2 separate regions of the Homo sapiens genome follow, and region 1 is linked to region 2. Evidence: fine-mapped expression QTL. A gene starts in region 2. The other region holds a variant in brackets. All regions are shown on one strand. Distances are from middle to middle.

Region 1 (10,855 bases), 28 kb before region 2:
TCCAGCCTGGTCGACAGAGCACAACTCTGTCTCAAAAAAAAAAAAAAAAATCACTTTGTAAATATTATTACTTATCCCAAATGAAGCAGTACATGCACAATTTCAAAAACAGCCCTAAGAGTACAGAACATCACAACTAAGTTTTAATCATGTGCAGAGAAGGCCGTGGACCATGGGGAGAGGCCCGGGCGCATCTCAGCTCACACTCCGGGGTAGGTGATTAGTGCAAGGGCTAAGGGAGCAGCCAGTTTGGCTCTGGGTTCATTTACATGCGGAGGTTGGAGTAGCAGCTGCTGACACTGACACCTGGTGCTGTGCGAAGCTGGGGGACAGAAATATTGAGTCATCTGGCCAAAACAAAGGACAAACTAGCACAAGAGACTGCAGCCAATCCAGGCTCATGCTGCACCTTTGCCCAGGCTCTGTCCTGGGCATGTGAAAGAGCCCTGCTTTGGTCCTGATGGAGCACAGCCTTCTGGCCAGGAGACACGCCCCCGCCGTGTGGGTGCAGGCCTCTCACCGTCGCAGGCAGTCCGTGAGCGTGGTGGTTCCCGACACGTGGCTTTCCCCGTTTACCACGTTGCCCTCGCTCCCTGGGCTCAGGGGCCAGAATGGGGTGGAAGAGCCGGGGAGATCCAAGCTGATGTCCCAGAAGGGGTCGATGGTGGTGGAGACTCCACTGGAAGCAGAGGGAAAACAATGGCTGTGAGGACTGACACCCACCCAGCTCCAGAGGCAACCCGGGGTGGAAGCCGTTCCCACATCCCTTCCCCGCTGTGCCCTTTGTCACAGTGACACTCAGGTGGGATGGGGCAGGAGCAAGAGCAGCAGTGCTCACACCCAACGTGTCCTGGCTCCCAAGGTGGCCCTGGGGAGGGGTGTGTGTGAACTCGGAAGGCGAGGGGCGCTCCTCAAGCAAGGACTTCCCAGTCTGGAGACCATCACAGTCACTGAGGGACTTGGGAGGAGGATAAACTCATGGGCCCTGTCAGAGGCTCTGAATCCACAGGTCTATCTCAGCTGCATCTAGAACTTGGGGCCTGTGACCCTAGGCAACACTGGAGACCCCTGCACATTTCACAGAGCGTGCCCAGGCCAGGCCCGGTGGCCTGCACTGGACAGTCAATGCTGCATTTCACAAGGCCAGTTCCTTGCTAGAAATTTATTTAACAATATAAAAAATGAAAACTTGCAGACTGGGAAATTTACTCTCGATATTTATACAGGATTTAAATCTTGAGACAATCTCCTACTAATGGAATTCAGTAGTTAAGGGACAGCGAGGAGGTCCAAATTGCTCAGAGCAAACTCGGTTTCTAATACTCAGAGACAAGGCCCCAAACGGTCTATGCTCCTTATAGAAAATGGCCCCCGTGACACAGGCAGCACTGGCCTTTCCCGATATTTGCTCGTCTTATGCAGTTTAGAAGTGACAGTCCATTTCGGGTTCTGAAATAATTTCGGTGGATCATGTCCAGGGTTTTTAAACTTCAACTGAAGTAAAGAACAGAGCCAGGCACGGTGGCCCATGCCTGTAGTCCCAGCTACTTGGGAGGCTAAGGAGGGAGGATCGCTTGAGCCCATGGGTTCAAGGCCAGCCTGGGCAACATACACAAGACCCCATGCCTGAAAAAAACAAAAACAAAAACAAAAAACCTGTAGCATGCACTGAGGTTGGGTGAGAGGGTCCCCTGACCTAACAAAGCAATGGATTCTCCCTGCACTCAACACTTGAGGCTCTAAGCAGAGACCACATCTGAGAAGAATTAGGGCCACTACATCAGAAAATGGAACCAGAAACCATAAAATAATGAAAACTAACACACTTCGAAGCACGTAGAAAAACAATCCACCATGCATGATCCACGCCTTCTTGAAGAGGGCTCTTTCACTTGGTCCCTGGTCAAGGACTGTAAGATGCAAAATGGTAGGGGAAGCTTCCAAGAACACACTGCTGGCTGTAGACAACAGCCAAGACCTCAACACGAAGGGCTCGCATCCCGAGGGGACACCTGCCCTACGACCTCCCCAAGAGGAAGCACCCCCACCCCACAACCTTCGCTCTCATGGCGTCTATTAATCATTTATCTCATAGCCTCCTTAAAGACCTCTCAGAGCACACACAGCTCTGGAGACTGGGAGGATGTCAGTACGGCCCCAGAGGGTTTGATATTGCCGAGCACGCAGCCTCTCACTTACTGGCAGACTTGGCAGGTGACGTCTGACTGCAACCCGCCTGTGAAGATCTGGTCTATGATGCAGTTGCAGTGGTTGGGGTTGTTGGCCTTCTTCCCATTGTCATCACCTGGAGACAGACCACGGCTCTGGGATTAGTGTCTCCCCAAATATGGGGAGTCTCTAAGGGAAGAGCAGTTCACCCTGCAGAAGCCTGGGGGAGCCAGGGCCAACGCTTTAAAAGGCCATGTGAGGACACTCCTCATTTTAGCAGAGGGTGTCCTTGTTATTTTAATATGACGAGAAATCACAGCACTTGGATTTTCAATGCTCCTTTTTCTCATTCCCTAACAAGAGCCCCACAGCTTCAGTCTTGCCAAGAAAACCCACCTAATGCCCAGTGACTGAGCAGAATAATCGATTCCCATTATCATATAAAGAATGACTGAATCAATATTGTTCCAGTGAGACAGCTGAACATATGGTGGGCCAGGTACACCCGGGGAAGCCCCAGCAACCTCCCTCCCTGAGTAGGTATCATGGTGCCCCAAGTTCAGAAAGTGACACCGCAGGACACAGGCTGTCCTCATCAGCTAGAGCCCCCAGGGGACAGCGTGTCTTCCAGTCAGTTGCATCTGGAAGTGCCACTCCCACCCTCTCTATTCAATACACACTTCATTCATATCCATGTGTGCAGATCTGTGAAAAAGAAACTTAAGTAGCAGAACTTAATTCGTGTGTGGAATACATATTCTACATAACTTCACTAGACAGTGGGGACAGGGCACGAGGACACCTGTATATACATCACAGTTCAAAGACGTTGAATCATGACAGAGGAATAGAGAAGGGCCACTAAGTCTTCTGAGAGCAGAAGGTTTAAGATTAGAGAGAAAAATGCTTCCCAGAGGGATCTCAAATTCATGGGACAAAATTCAGAGGACAAGAATATCCATACAGGAAGGCGCAAAGAATGATGAACAGAATGGCCAGGCGCGGTGGCTCACGCCTGTAATCCCAGCACTTTGGGAGGCCAAGGCGGGCGGATCACGAGGTTAGGAGACCGAGACCATCCTGGCTAACACGGTGAAACCCCGTCTCTACTAAAAATACAAAAAATTAGCTGGGCATGGTGGCGGGCGCCTGTAGTCCCAGCTACTCAGGAGGCTGAGGCAGAAGAATCACTTGAACCTGGGAGGCGGAGGTTGCAGTGAGCTGAGATCGCACCACTGCACTCCAGCCTGGCGACAGAGCGAGACTCTGACTCAAAAACAAAACAAAACAAAACAAAAGATGAACAGAAAGATGCCGTGAAGGCCACAAGGACAAAATGCACGTAACCAAGGCCATGTGGCCAGGCCACCTCGCTGAACAGCTCTGGCAACCAGGTTTCTAAACAGAAGAACCTTACATTTCTTTTCAGACATTTCCAAGGGAATTCTGTCAGAAGCACGTCAGAGGTCACATTTTGTCATGTGAACATTTAACAGCAATGCATTTTTGAACAAGTGATTTTTAGAACATCTTTCTGCTGCTTACAGAAGGCTCTTCGTTATTCTCACTAGGTGCTTGGGGTAACAGCATAGTCACTTCCACAGTGGCTCTTTCCTCTCTTATAAATCATACTAGGACATGAAATTCTACCTAAGCTACTAAGTAACTTTCCTTTGATTTCTAGGTAAGAATTAAAAGGATCACGTAGTTTTTCAGAGGAAAAAAAGTAAGTACCAAAAGAAAACAGAACCCAAAGTCACATTTGACCAAAACCAGCCATTTTAGCTCAACTGTGGGTTGTTTCTGGGCTGTGATCTCAGAACCCATAGGTTGTACGTAAGCGCCTAGGGCCCGGGTGCACAGCCTTGAGACGGATGAGAAGCGATGGGAAGGCCAGCCCACCAAGCTGTTCAACTCGGTGAACCGTCAGAACAGGACTCTGTTCTCTAAAAGACTCCAAGTTAAAATTAACTGATAGGATATCGGCTACAACTAGCTGTGCCAGCCCAGAGACCACAGGAAACTCACAAGCAGCCAGGTGCCCTGTGACCTGAGCGCATGGGTTCTCAGAGTATGGCATCTGAACCAGCGGCATCAACATCAGCTGGGAACTGATTAAGAGTGAAGAAGCCCCTGCCCCCCACAGATCTGCTGAATCAGAAACGCCAGCACGGGCTTTAGGAAGACCTGCAAGTGACCAGCCCACACTCATCTGAGAATCACCTCTCAGTCTCTCTGCCTGTATGGATAGACTTCAGCTGCAGGTCCCTCACACTGGGATCTCCACCATGAGGAGTGGGGAGGAGCCGATCTTGGCTCAAGTCATTCATTCCCAGCCTCCCACCTCCAGCGCTAAGAGCTGCCCCTGCCAACTACCAACACCACACAACTCTGAAAAATCATCAGGGTACCACCCTGGGGCCAGGCTGTGGGACTATGTTGGGGGAGATGGCCCAGGTCCAATGAGACCCCAAGAGAAGCTTTGCTCGTCCTGTGTCCCAGCTCTCTGGCTATTTCAGAGCAACCATCAGTCCTTTTGGAGAGTCCCCAATGGGAAGGAGACAGTTGGGTGATTAAGTTGTGTTTGGGGGATGTCCAGAAGCCTCAGGCCTGATAACCCACAGGGTCCCAGAAATGCCAGGGCAGGCAGGGGCCTCAAAGCACAGGCCCAAGAGGGCTCCAAGAGTTTGCTGTTCACTGTGATCGGTCACTGAGGACCTGTCATACTGCTGGAACTACTTCCTCGCCTCTTAAAAATAAACTAGGAGGAGCCTCTCTGAGGTCATTAGTTATGGTGACTTCAGAAACAAATGACGACAAGGGCTATGATGACAAAACAATGGAATGTGTCACCTGTGCCCCTTTTTGCACGAGTGCATACACTCGCTTTGCTTCCTTCCCCTTCAAGGAAAACATCCTGCCCTGGTGGAGGGTGCAGAGCCCAGGGCCCACCTTTGCAGTGTCGGTGGAGCACGTCCAGGGCCGCGATGAGGAACTCGTGGGCGTCCTGCTGCTCGTAGCCTGCTAGGTGCCTCGCGTGGGTCCACACCAGGTGCAGCAACTTATACGGGATGTGAGGGGACCGGTGTCCAGAGTAAAACTGCCAGAGGGCGGGGAAGGAAACCTTGTCAGGAATAAATGTAGACTCTGAACACAGAGTACACACAATCAAAACCTTTATCAGATGCCTACCATTGGCTGTGGCTCATTTGACACAAATGTTTGGATTTTACTTTTCTACTTTTTGCAAAGTCTATTTTTATCTGGGCTCACTGGACTTTTCGAGTCCTCATATGAATTTTTTCCTTTCTACCATCTAGTTTTCCACATATAAGCCTAAAAAATGAATTATGACTTGCTACTATGAGATCACATGCAAATAAAAGTGACT[C/T]GATTTGCCCAATACTAGTTTCCTCAAAGCACTAGCCAAACCACTCAGGCCCATGGACACCAGCACCTCCGCAAAGGGAAGCACATCACTGTGATTATGCAGAATTCACCAGCATCAGCCACAGGATTCTCTGCCTCTGAGGCTAATGGCAATTAGCTGAGGGCTTGCCAGCCAGTCCTCTCCAACAGCTCAACTCCAGCCGCAGACCCAGCAGCACACCTTCCATCCCACGGCTTCCTCCCCAGGTCAGAACCCACAGAGGGGTCTTGCCTGTGCAAATACAGAATTCAGGGCAGTTTTATTTCTCATCAAAAAACCCAAAACCACAGACCACCCAAATGTGTCTGAACTGGGAAACAGACAACTAAACCATAACCCATCTACATAATGGAACCCAACTCAGACATCGAAAGCACACATCATGGATGCACGCAAGACACGGGTGAATCCACCCAGTATTACATTAAGTAGGGACAGCCAGATTCAGAAAGGCTACTTCCTGCATGCATCCATCCGTATGATGCGCTGGTAAAGGACACTCAAGGGACCGAAGACAGATCGGCAGCTACCAGGGTCTGGGGACTGGGGGTTGACTTCGGAGGGGCACGAGGGAGTTCGGAGAGGTAACAGTTCTTCATCTTGAGTAGCAGCAGTTACACAACTATGCATTCGTCGAAACTCATCTATCTATAGGCTAGAAGGTGGGTGTGACTGTAATTTACACCTTAACAAGCCGGAGTCTAAAAACAATCTAACACAAGTGAGCTTATCACTAAAGTCAGTGATACAACCACCCACCAACTTCCCAGCTGCACCCTCCTTTCTCCTATTTGGGCCGTGTCCCCAGCAGTTATGGCACATTGCAGGTACTTTGAGGAAATCGGTTAGGCTCGACCAGAGGCTGGCAATCTGTTTTTGAAAGGCTTGGACAGTAAATAATTTCAGCTTTGCAGGTTGGATAGCCTCTGTCCAACTGCTCAACTCTGTGGCTGTCCCACAAAAGCGACCAGTGACCAGACAGACATGAGTGAGCTGGCGTGGCTGCATCTCTCGCAGAGGTTACGAATGGGAACAGGCCAGGGCTGTTGGCTGGCTCCTGTGCAAGGCACCTGAAGAACAGGCACCAGCCTGCTTATTAGTTGAGGTAACTGAGCTGCTTCAGCTCTGAGAAGCATGTCTAGGTCACGGAGCCGGTGAGGGCTGAGGCGGCAGCCGTGAACGCCTTGCTCTGAACGCTGCCATGCTCTGATGCCGGGGACAGAAGTGGACAGGAACGCCACACGTGCAGCCCACAGGAACAGCCAACGTGCAGCGCGTAGCTCATGAGGACAGAGGCTCTGATGGGGCATGCTTAGAGAGACCTGGCGGTGGAGGAGACTCGCATACCAGGAGGACACAGGAGGGTGACACATGCGTGCCTTTCTGAGCCAGGAAGGTAGACCATGGAGGAAGAGGAAGGGGGAGAATCACCCGTCTTTAGAGACAAATGTCACCCACCAGGGAAGTCTCTGCCACAAGCCTCTCAAAGGGCTTCTCCTTGTTCTGAGTCAGCAGTGCGTCCCCAAAAATCACGCCAGGTCTTCCCTTTTTGGAAAACTGTGTTTTCCATAATAGACATGTATATTAAACATTAACTTACTACAAAAGGTTCTAAATGTATCTTCCTTTATCATGGTCCACCTTAAATTTTTTTTTTGAAGGTGAAAACAAAGTAACAGAAATGTTCCCCTGCAGAAGTCAATGGCGCTCACCTCCTGAAACAGTGAGGACATCTCACAGACCAGACAGGAGCTGGGGCTCTGCATCTCACAGCGGTGCCTGTCAGACAGGAAGAAGTCCCGCAGAAGTGGCGTGTGGGTCAGGGCCTGCACGATGCAGTTCATGAAGCATGTGTTCCCAAGGTTGATCAGCCCACGCAGACCTGGACACAAATCACCAGAGAGCAGGAGTTACCTGTGTGCTGAACCACAGGTGTCGCTGGATCCCAGCGGCTTCCTCTACCTCTACATACTCATTTTCTTTTATTCATTCATTCAAGCCAGAACACGATGAGATATCGCATTCTGCTAGTTTTTATGCCACTTTTACATGAACGGTATTGAAGAATGTCCACCACCATGGACCCCTCCCACTTCAGCCATTGTATGCTTTGACAGAATTACACAAATATAGTTTCTACGACAACAGGCCAGGTCAGAGTGAAGCCTAATGAACAAACAAAACAGGTTTTTAAAAATGTTCTAGGGCCAGGGCAGGGGCTCATACTTGTAACCCAGCACTCTGGGAAGCCAAGGCATGAGGATCACTGGAGCCCAGGAGTTCGAGACCAGCCTGGGCAACATGGTGAGATGTCTCTACGCAAAACACAAAAATTATCCAAACATGGTGGTGTGCACCTGCAATCCCAGCTACTTGGGAGGCTGAGGTGGAAGGATCGCTTGGGCCCAGGAGACAGAGGGTGCAGTGAACTGTGCTCCAGCCTGGGCAACAGAGCAAGACTCTGTCTCAAAAAAGAAAAAGAAAAAGTTTTAAAGGGTATTCCCTCAATTTGTAGAAAATTCAGCGAACACTTACACTCACACACATCATTTCTCTCCCTGAAGATTACTGTGCCCAGCCTCACCCTGGCCAAAATCAACTTGAGTCCCTTTACCCACACAGACGCTGAAGGCTGTGAGGGCAGGGCTGTTGCTACGCATCACTCTGCGCCCCAAGCCCACTGCAGGTCCCTGCAGAGAACAGGTGCTCAAGAGCTGGTTGCTGAGCACATTGATGAGTGACAGTTATGCAGGGCTTCAACAGAATCATGTGGACTTAAGAAACCCACAATTCTGTATTTACTTTTAAACCCTGGAAAGAAGCCTAGCTGAGAGTGACGACACGCTCCACCCACCTATGGTGCAGTTCGAGGTGATCTTTCTCCTTTTCGGGTTGTGCTTCAGCAGTTCAAGCTCCCGTTTGGTTGGTTCCCAAGTTGAAAACTTCTCTCCAACGCCTAAGCAGATGAAGGACAGTTCCAAGCGCTATTAGCTAGATTTTCACATCAAGTGTGTTTACACATAAAAGCTGTGGCGCTATGCTGTCTGTCAGGGTGCATTTCAGTGAGCAACATCCACAGCACCAGGGCTTTCTCAAACTCTACTGTGCTGAGAGGGGCTACACACAACACTTAAAGGAGCTTCTCACAGAGGGTATGAGGATGTGAGCTACGTTTCCTGCAAGAAAAGCAGCACCTCCAGTCAAAACTACCCCAACGCCAATGCCAAAACAGTTGTTTTTCAAATGTCTTCCATCCTTCAGCACAGAGATGGCAGCATCAGCACCAATGGGAACTTACATGAAGGATTCTCCCGCAAACAAGTGAAATTGAAGGAGAGAGCTTGCACTTTTCAGCAAACTGAAATAGCATAAACTCAGCGTCGAGTTACCAAACTAAGATAGATCCAACAGTTAAAAACGTGTGTGCCACAAAATATTCAGAGAGTGGTGGTAAATGCTAATTGGCATAGTATTCCATTCAACGCACACCCTATGCGCTCAGAAGTACTTGTTCCATGCCAACCAACATTTCTGAATACTTCAAAATACTTTAAAAGACACAGCATGTTGGATAGACAGAATTATAAAATGATTCTAGAAGAATTCCATTTTAATCCTGGACATACATTTCTTAGGCCCGTGCTTTAAGTGCTCTGCACAGAATAATACACCCACACTTAGTCACAATGTTATTAAATTTCTGAGAGGGAAAAGAACAGCGAACACAAGTCAGAGATTGCTCTCCAGAGAAGACTTGTTAAACACAAATAATTCTGCTCACTGAAAGAGCCCCTGTTGCTATTCTTCCCTTCTCAAAACACTGGGGTGTTTTCAATGGAGAGTAATCAAGGCAAGAATGTAAAACAGGTGTCAGGTTCATATGTTTCCTTTGCAAACAGTGATGGCTTTGCTACCAGGGAGATCAGATGCTCACCTGTCAACTGGGGTAAACCACACCTGTCACTATGTCACTATCACTGTCAACCACTATGAGCATCTGTCAGAATCAAAAACCAAAAAAAAAAAAAAAAAAAAAAAAAGGAAAAAAAACTCAGGGAAGCCAAGAAGAAATAAAAAATAAAGAAAATGACTGCATGTTTGCTCCTCTCACTCTGTGTAGCCAATAACCAGTGTGTGTGGCCACACGGTGGCGACGGCAAGTGCAAAACCCACACTGGTGCGAGAGCCGTGAGGGCAGCTCACAAGATGGCAAGGATCTGACTGTGCAGTGGGGCTGCTGGGAGACTCTCCTAGTTTCCTTCTGGTGGGTCTAGTTTCCATCTGGTGGGTCTAGTTTCCATCTGGTGGGTGCACGCTGTTGACATGGATTTAACATCACCCAAACAGTCCAGAGTTTTAAAAGAGATTCTACCACAACTTGATCCGAAAATAGTCTGCTCTCCTGGGAGGAAGGAGGTATGTTTACATATAACATTACTGCAAAGAGATCGCTTGCTAGAATTCGGCAGAGCTGAGGGCAAACCACTCAGGGATGTCCAGATACGGAGTCACCTGTCCCCGAGAGGTGTGACCTCGCCACACTCGTTCAGCCCCACATCTGCAGGTGCGCCCTGGGAGAGCTTAAGTAATGCTGGGGTTGTTCCCTTGGCCCAGCTGCAGGCCCATGGGGGACCTGCAAGGGAAGCACCCTGGAAGTGGTCCCAAGCACACGGGCAGCTATGCATGCCTCGACACTAGCCACCTCCCCTGTCATGCAGAGCTTCAGCTGACTCCACTGTGGGCCTTAGGGGAAGGTGGGGACGGCCTCTTCCCACCAGCCTGCCACTTCCCACCTAGGTACTTCTCTTTCTCCTACTGGGTCTGCCCTTGATGGACATGAGGGAACTGCAGGATCAAGCAGGTAAACTGAGGTGGAACCAAACCTTGCATTTTCCAAGCTTTTCGCTGCTCCTCCTTGGCGATTATTTCCATGTCTTTGTCATAGATGTAGTCCTGGCACAGAAAACAGTAGATGCCTCCGTACATCAGATCAATGGCTGAGGAGAGAAAGGAGGGAGGAGAAACCAAGTTGAATTAAAAACCACAATGGAAGGCTGGAGGGCAGAGTTAAACACAGTGAGGTTCTGTAGATACTGACTGTTCACAGCACCTTCCTATTCACAAGCAGGGAAGCCAGTCCAGCGGAGTCTCCTATCCTGAGCAGGTGAGGGGCATGCACTGTGTTTGGCAGCTCATGCCCAGGGCTGAGGTGTCTTAAAAAACAGAGGCGACCCATACATACTTTTCAAAGCAGCC
Region 2 (10,855 bases):
AGACAAACCCTGAAATGGTAAGAAATTTGTTATATTTAACACACACCAAAAACACAAAGGAGACGCCACTGTGGTCGTGCCAGTCCTAAATCATGGAAATAGTTTTTTTCTTTTTTTTTGAGACGGTCTCGCTCTGTCGCCCAGGCTGGAGTGCAGTGGTGCGATCTCGGCTCACTGCAACCTCCGCCTCCCTGGTTCAAGCGATTCTCCTGCCCCAGCCTCACGAGTAGCTGGGATTACAGGCGCGTGCCACCATGCCCAGCTAATTTTGTGTATTTTTAGTAAAGACATGGTTTCACCGTGTTAGCCAGGATGGTCTCGATCTCCTGACCTCGTGATCCGCCCGCCTCGGCCTCCCAACGTGCTGGGATTACAGGCGTGAGCCACCATGCCCGGCAGAAATATTTTTATAGTCTGCAATACAAGAGTTTTATGGCAATTCGGGCCAGGCGCGGTGGCTCATGCCTGTAATCCCAGCACTTTGGGAGGCCAAGATGGGCGGATCACCTGAGGTTGGGAGTTCGAGACCAGTCTGACCAACATGAAGAAACCCCATCTCTACGAAAAATACAAAATTAGCCAGGCATGGTGGCGCATGCCTGTAATCCCAGCTACTTGGGAGAATCACTTAAACCCTGGAGGGGGAGGCTGTGGTGAGCCGAGATCACGCCATTGCCCTCCAGCCTGGGCAAAAAGAGTGAAAACCCCATCTCAAAAAACAGAGTTTTACTGCAATTCAAGCTTCTTTTGGACAGAAATTTATCAAGCCTGGTCATGTTTTTGTCATGTTCTGCCTGTTAAAAGAAGAATCAAAGTTTGGGTACAAAATGCATAATCCATCTGTCCTTAGATAACAAAACTCGTAATTCCTATTCATTCAGGGATTCATTTCTTTAAACTGTACCTGAGATGTCCATCTCAAAAAGTACCTTTGTTTGTTTACAAAGATTATAATTCAAGTTGAAGTTTGTTTTGAGATAGGTTTTGTTGTCCAGGCTGGAGTACAGTGGCACAATCATCAGCTTAAAGTACTTTTACAGTCAAGTTCATATCATTAAAACCAAAAATATGGCTGGGCTCAGTGGCTCTGGCCTGTAATCCCAGCACTCTGGGAGACAGGAGGATGGCTTGAGTCCAGGAGTTCAAGACCAGCCTGTGCAATATAGTGAGACACTGTCTCTACAAATATTAGCCGGTCGTGGTGACACACGCCCGTAGTCCCAGCTACTCAGGAGAGGCTGGAGTCCAGGAATCTGAGGCTGCAGTGATCACTGACCAGACCATTGCACTCCATCCTGGGTAACAGAGCAAGACTCTGTCTCTACAAAAAATAATTTTTAATAAAATAAAATTTAAAAAACAAAATGTCCTAAGCTTACAGATCTGATGGAAATCCTATGCAGATTGTCCAACTGTTAATCATCAGGTTTGTTAAACTATTTCCCAAACCAACTCTTCCTTAACTGGGCCACTAGAGAGTGCTAGAAATGCAGGACACCGCACATGAAGTGATACAGGTAAATAAGTCCCCCCAGTCAGAGGAAAAAGCATGGAGGGCTTAAGGGCTCCTTGCTGGCACACTGCCAACTGGCACTGCAGCAGCCCCCACCTAAATTTTGAAAGAAATATTTTTCACTACCCGACTACAGTTCAACTTCTAATTGGTGAATAACATACATGTGGCTCAACAGTTTTGAAACTAAGCAACTGACATCTGAAATTAAAAGATTAATCAGAGCCATAAGTAGCGCAAAAAAAAAAAGTAATTCTTAACTTTAGGAAATTAGGCAAAGTTAGTTAATGATGGTTTAAACTTGACTCCTTCTATTTGGTTAAAAAATACCAGAGGGGGGAAGAAAGGGAGAGGGAGGGAGGGAACGGAAAAAGAAAAGGAGGGAGAGGAAGAGTGGGGCGGTCCCCACTTCATCCAAAGTAGTAACAAATCTTGGGCGCGTCACGTCCCAATCCGGACACTACTGACCCAGAGTAGCAACAGCACATTCCCTGTAGAAGACTGGCTTCAACCAGGCCACCCTTTTTTTTTTTTTTCCGGAGGGGGTCTTGCTCTGTCACCCAGTCTGGAGTACAGTGGCGCGATCACTGCTCACTGCAACCTCCGCCTCCCGGGTTGAAGTGATTCTCCTGCCTCAACCTCTGGAGTAGCTGGGATTACAGGCGCCCGCCATCACACCCGGCTACTTTTCGTATTTTTAGTAGAGATGAGGTTTCACCATGTTGGCCAGGCTGGTCTCGAACTCCTGACCTCGTGATCTGCCCCCCTCGGCCTCCCCACGTGCTGGGATTACAGGCGTCAGCCACCGCGCCAAGCCAGGCCATCTTTTCTTAAAGACACACAATTCTACTAGCAAGACTCTAACTCCGATCCTGAAACGTTTTATGTCTGATTTTAGTTCATCCAGACATAACGCTACCTGATACCATTACAGATAAAAAAAATTTTGAGGCCGGGCACGGTGGCTCATGCCTGTAATCCCAACACTTTGGGAGGCAGAGGCGGGTGGATCACCTGAGATCAGGAGTTCCAGACCAGCCTGGCCAACATGGTGAAACCCCGTCTCTACTAAAAATACAAAAATTAGCCGGGCGTGGTAGCAGGAGCCTGTAATCCCAGCTACTCAGGAGGCTGAGGCAGGAGAATCGGCTGAACCCGGGAGGCGGAGATTGTAGTGAGCCGAAATCGCGCCACTGCACTCCAGCCTGGGGTACAAAGCGAGACTTCGTCTCAAAAAAATAATTTTTTTTTTGAATTACTGCTTAACATACCCTACAATCTCAGCGAGCCTGTTGGTATTCCCATAAATAAAAAAATGCCACTCAAGGTGGAAACTGCCCTCACAACTCCCAATCTCGGATTGTAATCTACAAAAGCGCGTGAAACTGTAAAAATAAACTTTATTCACATAGAAGAATCACGTTACGTTTTGATTTCCAAACCCTTACCAAGCCTAACTGCGGGACGCAAGACTGGGCTCCCCGAGGGGACTCACTCCTGGTTAAGGCCTCCCACAGCCCACGGCGCGCTTCCAAGTCTACTCCTCAGCCGCAACGCAAACCCGGGCTGTGGCTCCGCACCCACAGGCTCGCCCCGGCCCCAGCCCCTGCCGCCCTCCACCTCCAGCTCCTCGCGGGCCCCGAGGCAGCCGCGAAGCTCCGGCCCCGCGCCCCCCAGCCCGCCTCCTGCCCCAGCTCCCGTCCAAGGTCGCTCCTGGCGGCGGGTGACCGCTGCAGACCAACGCCCAGAACTCGACAGCCCCCCATCCTTTACTCATTTTTTTGAAATATTTCTTTCTCTGCACCCGCATCCAGCCCCGAACCCTCCAGAACCAGGAGAGTTCCCCGCAAGGACCTCGCGCAGGAACGCCCGGGACCGCCCACCGAAGTCCCAGGCTCCCCAGGCAGCAGGGCAGGAGAACACCACCCCCGGCCCGGAAGCACTCGCCCCTCCCGGGCCAAGAAGGATAAGGGAGGGGGAGGGCGGAGAGAAAGGAGGGGGAGGGGACAGAGAGGAGGGGGAGGGGACAGAGAGGAGGGGGAGGGAAAGGAAGAATGGGGGAAGGGGGGAGAGGGGAAGGATAGGAAGATGAGGAGATAAGGGAAGGGAGAGAGTTGAGGGGGGAAGGAAAGGAGGGGGAAGGGGTAAAGAGAAGAGAGGGCAGAAGGAGAGAGGAAGAGGAAGGACAGGGAAAGGCAACGGGGGAAGGGAAGAGGGCAGGAAAAGGGCCCCTCCGCCGGCCGGCCTCAGGAGCGGCAGAAGGCCCCGAGCCCGCCGCGCGGTGGGCTGCCGGGCGCACCTTGCGCTTGCGGGCCTCAGCCGTGCCGCTCCACACGAAGCACTGGTAGATGGCCCGCAGGTTCTGCTTCCAGTTGTCCACCTTGAAGCTGCCCAGGTGCGAGCAGCCCGGCGGCGCTACCGCCAGCTCGGCGTCCATGGCCTCGCCCTCGGGCTCTGGCCGGGACACCATGGGGGGCAAGGCCCGGCCGCGCGCGGGGGGCGGCGGCGAGGGAGGCGAGGACGACGCCAGCGCGGCGTGGGGGCTGCTCGGCGGCTGGCCAGGCTGGCCAAGGCCCGGGCGCCGAGAACAAAGCGCGGAGGCCGGACAAAGATGGGGCTGCGCGATCGCCGAGGGGAGGCTGCAAGGCAGGCACCGCCCCCGAGCTGCGGCTGCTGCGGACCGCCTGCGCTGCGCTCTCGCGGTTCGCGGAGGGTGTCGCGGGGCGGGGCGCCGCGGCCGCGGACGGAGATTACGTCACCCCCCCCCCCCCTCCCGGCCGGCACCGCACTGCGCAGTCTCCAGCCCGCGCCAGGCCCTTCCCCCACACTCGCGCGCCCGTTAGGCTCTGGGTAGACCCGCGCCCGAGGAAGCGTGGTAGGGGGGGGAAGCTAACGAGGGCCCGCCCCTCCCCTTCCTTTATTGGTAGTAGGCCACCCCCCCCCCCCCCCCGGCACCTTCGGCTATTGTCATAGGCTCTCAGTATAGTCCGTCTGGTACAGAGCCGCCTCCCGGGACCCTGGCGGCTAGACGTTCCCTGTCTCTTCCAGAGGACTGGGGAGGCGGGGGCGTGCTGCGGTTGGGCGGCGCGAGACGTCAGTCCTAGCACTGAACCGGTTTGCGCCGGCCTGAGCTCTGCCGCAAAGAGGCGGGGCGATGAGCTGGAGCGCCGCAGGTCGGGCCTCCATCCAGGGCCTGCGCTTTCCCACCCAAAAGCACCCCCTAATCGGGAGCTGTTTGCAGGGCCCCCGGTTGCCGTAACCTGGCTCGGGCCCTGCAGTGCCGTGGCCCGGGGCTGGAACTGCCTGCCAACTGCCTGGTAGGCGCTGCCCCCGGCCGCAAGCTGGGGCGCCTCCTGTCGGGAGCCCGCTGATAGTGAGGGCCAACCCGGCGCCATCCAGTTTAAAGAGGCATCTGCGCGCCACACGCCTGACACTTCACATTTGCTAGTGGCTACATTTTTCTAATGAAAAAAGAAAGTTACAGTAATATATCTCAACCCAATAAAGTCAAATTATTTCAGCATGTAGGCAGTATTGCAAAATCGTTAGTGGAATGTTTTACAGTTTTTGCAGCAAGTCTTGGAAATCTGGTATTTACACTTAAAGCACATCCAATTCCTACTAGCTGCTACCGCAGTGGGCGGCACAGGTCTAATCGGTATACAAATAACTGACCCAAGGCAAACTGAGAAGACATTTAAAGACGAATGCAAACGAAGTTCTGGGGGAACCAGGGCGCCAAGGGTCTGGGGGAACTTGGATAAGGTGTCAGGTGTGGAGCTGCTCCCCTGTACTCATCCCGCTGCTAACTGCTTTGCTCATTCATTCATCCACAGATTGCAGGAAACAGCAATTGCCGTCCAGAACCATCACAAGTTAAAAAATAAAGATTGTGATCTCACAACACTTAAAGCTACAGGGTTTAATGGACTGACGACTGGGATAAAGCTTTTGTGGCCAAGACAAATTGCCGAGCACAGGTTTTTGCCTCATGGCCTTCGTGCTTGCAGTACCCTCTCCCTAAAATGCTTTCCCTACCCCCTCACCCTCTGCATCCTTATATTCCATGTCTGATGCTCGCTCACCTCCTTCCAGCTTTATCACACACCTCCTTTTCCGTGAAAAGGAAAATTGCCACCCTAATGAAAATTGCAAGCCCCCCAAAATTCTCCATTCCCTTACCCTGCTTTGTTTTTCTCCAAAGAATTTATCACTATCTGGCGTAATGAATATTTACTTATTTTTTTTATTGTCTCTTCCCTTAATAGCATGAAAAATTACGAGAGGGTAATCTTTTTTTTTTATTTTTTATTTTTGAGACAGAGTCTCGCTCTGTTGCCCAAGGCTGGAGTACAGTGGTGCAATTTCGGCTCACTGAAACCTCCGCCTCCCAGATTCAAGCGATTCTCCTGCCTCAGCCTCCCCAGTAGCTGATATTACAGGCGCCTGCCACCACGCCGCTAATTTTTGTATTTTTAGTAGAGAGGGGCTTTCACCATGTTGATCTGGAACTTTTACTAGAAATGGGGTTTCGTCAGGCTGGTTTTGAACTTCTGACAGCAAGTGGTCCACCAGCCTCGGCCTCCCACAGTGCTGGGCTTATAGGCGTGAGCCACTGCGCCTGGCCTCCAAGAGGGTAATGATATTGTGTGTTTTATGTACTACTACAGCCGCAAGTTCCCAGAACTGTATTGGCTACATGCAGGTACTCGGAATTACCCGGTGAAGCCCTATAGTAGTCCCAGCTACTCCAGAGGCTACGGCAAGAGGATCGCAGAGCCCAGGAGGTCAAGGCTGCAGTGAGCTGTGATTGTGCCACTACACTCTAGCCTGGGCAACAAAGCAAGACCCCATCTCTAAACAAAACAAAACCCTGCCGAATTAATTAACCCGAAACACATTTACAGAAAAATCTAACGAGACCATTTCTAGAATAAAACACTTGTTAAGGAAAACCATGTTTATGTTAGAGGAAAGAATGTCAGCTTACAAAAAACTAAAATCCTAACTAGTAAGTCAGGAATTACAAAAATATGTGATCCATCTCTATAAATATTGATGTAAGGAGTTTTCTCATATTGTTGGGCTTATACAAATATGATTTGGCTTCACAAATGTGCACTTAGCATTCAGGCCCTAATATTTATTATCTTTTTTTTTATCAATACGATCATCTAAGCACAGAAGAATATCTGTGCTGTCCACTTGAATCAATTATAATGATTTAAATGTTCCATAATCAGAACAACCTTAGTGATTTTAAAAAATTTAAACTACAGAATATACTCTTGAGAAGCAGTCCCCAAAAGATGTATGGATGAAGTGCTTTTTTTCTAATGGGAAACAAATGGAAACGTTAATGACGATTAATAGGAGAATCATTGAATAAATGATGGACTAGCCATTCTAGGGAATAGTACACAGCTATTAAAAAGAATGAAGTCCAGCTTGGGCAATGTGATGAAACCCTATCTCTACAAAGAAATTAAAAAAAAAAAAAAAAAGCCAGTTGTGGTGGTGCACGCCTATAGTCCCAGCTACCCAGCAGGCTGAGGCGGGAGGATTGTTTGAGCATAGGAGGTCGAGGCTGCAATGAGCCCTGATCATGCCAGTGATTCCAGCCTGGGCAACAGAGAAAAAAAAAACTAGATCTGTAAGTACTAGTACAAAAAGTCATAAAACATAAATGAATACAACAAATTGCAGAAAATTACAGAAAATATGCTGACGTTTGTAGGAAAATAATGGAAGGCCTGGAAGAAAGAAACACACCCATCAATAACAGTAACTTCTGGAAAGGAAAAGGTAGATGTGACTTAATCTGTAATGTTTGAATGTTTTCTTACAATGAAAATTAATATATTCCTTTGTATTTAAAAATCACTAAAACTTAAAAAGAAATGACAAAGTGTCATGGTACGAGGGAACACACTGTTCTACAACATGTAGAAAACAGTGGCCCACATGTTCAGTATATGCATTTATTCATGTATCCAAGAATCAAGTCAGATTGCTAAATTACAGTCAGGCTCTGCCACCTACTATCTGTGTAACCTTGGGCGGATTGCCTAAATTTCTCAGCCTGTTCACTTATCTGTTAAAATTGGGAGAATATCAGCTCTGTGCTTACGTTGAAGTGTATGGCAAGGAATAAATGAGATAATCCATACAAAACTCTTAGCAAGTGCCTGTTGTTAATAAGGGCTCAAGAAACATTAGCAGTTATTGATCTGATAGTTGCTGGCAATTGAGATGATTACAACAATTTCTTGCTTCAAGAATCCCAGGAGGATGGGAGAGGAGAATTTTTTTTTTTTTAATTTAAAAAAAAAAAGGCCGGGCATGGTGGCTCACGCCTGTAATCCCAGCACTTTGGGAGGCCGAGGCGGGCGGATCACAAGGTCAGGAGATCAAGACTATCCTGGCTAACATGGCGAAACCCCGTCTCTACTAAAAATACAAAAAATTAGCTGGATGTGATGGCACCATTGTAGTCCCAGCTACTCAGAAAATCGCTTGAACCCGGGAGGTGGAGGTTGCAGTGAGCCAAGATTGCACCACTGCACTCCAACCTGGGCGACAGAGCAAGACTCTGTCTCAAAAAAGAAAGCCAGGTGGCCTATGCCTGTAATCCCAGCACCTTGGGAGGCCAAGGTGGGTGGATCACTGAAGGTCAGGAGTTCAAGACCAGCATGGCCAACATGGTGAAACCCCATTTCTACTAAAAATACAAAAATTAGCCAGGCGTGGTGGTGCATGCCTGTCATTGTAGCTACTTGGGAGGCTGAGGCAGGAGGATCACTTAAATCTGGGAGGTGGAGGTTGCAGTGAGCCAAGATCGCGCCACTGCACTCCAGCCTTGGTGATACAGTGAGACGGTGTCTTAAAAAAAAAAAAGAATCCCACAGTGTAGTGTGCTTAGTAGCAATATTGCCAGCAACATTAGCGGGATGTTATAGGAATATAAAACTGCAGCGATAAAGGAAAGTCTAGGTAATATCGTAATACTCCAAGACACCTCTTTACCGTAATCCTCCCCAGACAGGTATGGTGGAGGAGATCTGGAAATGTTTTTTGATGCCTTACCTAGGTATGGAAGACAGGGTTTTTTTTTTGTTTTGTTTTGTTTTTTTGAGATGGAGTCTCGCTCTGTCACCCAGGCTGGAGTGCAGTGGCGCAATCTAGGCTCACTGCAAGCTCTGCCTCCTGGGTTCACACCATTCTCCTGCCTCAGCCTCCCGAGTAGCTGGGACTACAGGCGCCCGCCACCATGCTCGGCTAATTTTTGTATATTTAGTAGAGATGGGGTTTCACCTTGTTAGCCAGGATGGTCTCGATCTCCTGACCTCGTGATCCGCCCGCCTTGGCCTCCCAAAGTGCTGGGATTACAGGCGTGAGCCACCGCGCCCAGCCGAAAGACAGTTTTTAAAAAGGAGTGTGACCTGGTCAGGTTTTTGCCTGAAAAGGCATTTCCCACCATCCATGAGACTAACACAGCCTAAAATGTTATTTTCTAAATTTTTGTTTTCAAATTTAAAAGAAGTTAAAACACCCATGGAATTATGGTTCCTAGATGGTCAAGTAATAATCCTAGACCAATCCTCCCTCATATAACAACTATGAACTGTGGACATAATGCAAGCACAAATATCTAAAGGCTTTGGAGAGTGAACCAAAGCAGGCAGACCTAGTTAGGTGCAGACACATGGAAAAAGGGACCTGCCCAATAGGAGTAACCCGATGTCGATGGTTTATAGACTGAGGACAGGACATACTTGGCATCTAGACAGGAAGCCTGAAACTCTGATAGAAAATCCATGGTATTTCTGGACTGAAGAAGCAGAAGACAGAGTACAGAGCAACCAAAGCCACTGAAAAGTGAGAAGAGATTCAGAGATGTGAAGCCGCAGAATCTGTGCATAAACTACATCCAGGGGTCCAGTTGACCACCAAACCACTCCTATGGGGCAAATTCCAAGCAGCCAAACTAGAACAAAAAGAAGTGAGCGGAGATGTAAGCTACTAGTCAAGAAACCACTAAATACCATTAATTGCCTGCTAAAACAAAAATATTAACTGTCTTTGGAGGTATATAACAAAATTCATACTTTCAACAACATAACAGTAGTAATGTCCAGGATATGATCCAAAATTATTATTATTATTATTTTGAGATGGAGTTTCGCTCTTGTTGCCCAGGCTGGAGTGCAATGGTGCGATCTTGGCTCACTGCAACCTCCGCCTCCCAGGTTCAAGCAATTCTCCTGCCTCAGCCTTCAGAGTAGCTGGGACTACAGGCATGCACCACCACGCCTGGCTAATTTTGTATTTTTTAGTAGAGACAGGGTTTCTCCATGTTGGTCAGGCTGGTATCACACTCCCAACCTCAGGTGATCCACCCACCTCAGCTTCCCAAAGTGCTGGGGTTACAGGCATGAGCCACTGCGCCCAGCTCAAAATTATTTGACATATGAGGAAACAGGAAAATGTGCCCCTTTTTAAGAAATAAAACAAGAAAGATGATCAACCATAAGATATGTCAGATATCAAAATTAGTATATGAGGAATTCAAAGCAGCTATGGTAACTGTGCACAATGAGGTAAAGGAAAGTATGTTTGAAATGAATGAAAGATGGAAAATAGCAATGAAGGCCAGGTGCAGTGGTTCACACCTGTAATCCCAGCACTTTGGGAGGCTGAGGCAGCAGGATCGCTTGAGGCCAAGAGTTCAAGACCAGCCTAGGCAACATAGTGAGACCCTGTCTCTACAAAAAACAAATTCCAGCCTAGGCAACATGATGAAACTCTGTCTCTATAAAAAAAAAAAAAAAAAAAGAAAGAGCTGGGTGTGGTGGTACACACCTGTAATCCCAGCTACTTGGGTGGCTGAGGTGGGAGGATCACTTGAGCCCAGGAGTTGCAGGCTATAGTGAGCCATGATCACACCACTGCATTCCAGCCTGGGCAACAGAGCCAGACCTTGTCTCTAAAAAAACAAAAAGAAAATAGCAGTGAAATAAAAACTATACAAAAGAATCAAATAGAAATCCTGGAACTGAAATATCAATATCTGCAATAAAAAGGTCACCAAATGGGCTTAAAGGCAGAATGGAAATGGCATAAGAACAAAGAAAAAATAGTTGTAAGAAAAAAAAAAACAAAGTCTCAGAAACCTGTAGGGCAATATCAAAGGCTGAGAATATGTTTAATTCAAGTCCTGGAGGGAAAGGTGGAAGAATGAGAGAGAAAAAATGTCTGAAGGGATACTGGCCGAAATTTTCCCAAGTTTGCTGAAAGATACAAATTTACAGATTCAAAAATGCTGTTGAATTCCAAGTAGGA

Which allele goes with the higher level. Positions count from the first base shown, and alleles are read on the strand shown. Sizes are in standard deviations (SD) of each study's normalised expression.
With allele C in place of T in region 1, the expression in thyroid of the gene that starts at base 4,159 in region 2 is higher (small effect, 0.31 SD a copy in GTEx).

Evidence for each region.
Region 1: its variant is fine-mapped to the expression of USP22 in thyroid (GTEx, PIP 0.91).

What each region holds. Positions count from the first base shown.
Region 1 is chr17:21,010,631-21,021,485 of GRCh38, forward strand. USP22 (ubiquitin specific peptidase 22) reads right to left here. Exons shown (of 13, transcript NM_015276.2): 3 at 10,483-10,596; 4 at 8,454-8,555; 5 at 7,312-7,481; 6 at 5,122-5,269; 7 at 2,200-2,305; 8 at 521-679. Among named protein-coding and RNA genes, the nearest start is that of USP22, 27 kb to the right of the region's middle. The variant C/T (reference allele first, on the strand shown) is at 5,561.
Region 2 is chr17:21,038,853-21,049,707 of GRCh38, forward strand. It overlaps USP22 (ubiquitin specific peptidase 22), which reads right to left and starts at 4,159. Exons shown (of 13, transcript NM_015276.2): 1 at 3,813-4,159. The coding sequence starts at 3,983. RefSeq lists a silencer at 3,845-4,444 and enhancers at 3,980-4,929, 4,930-5,877.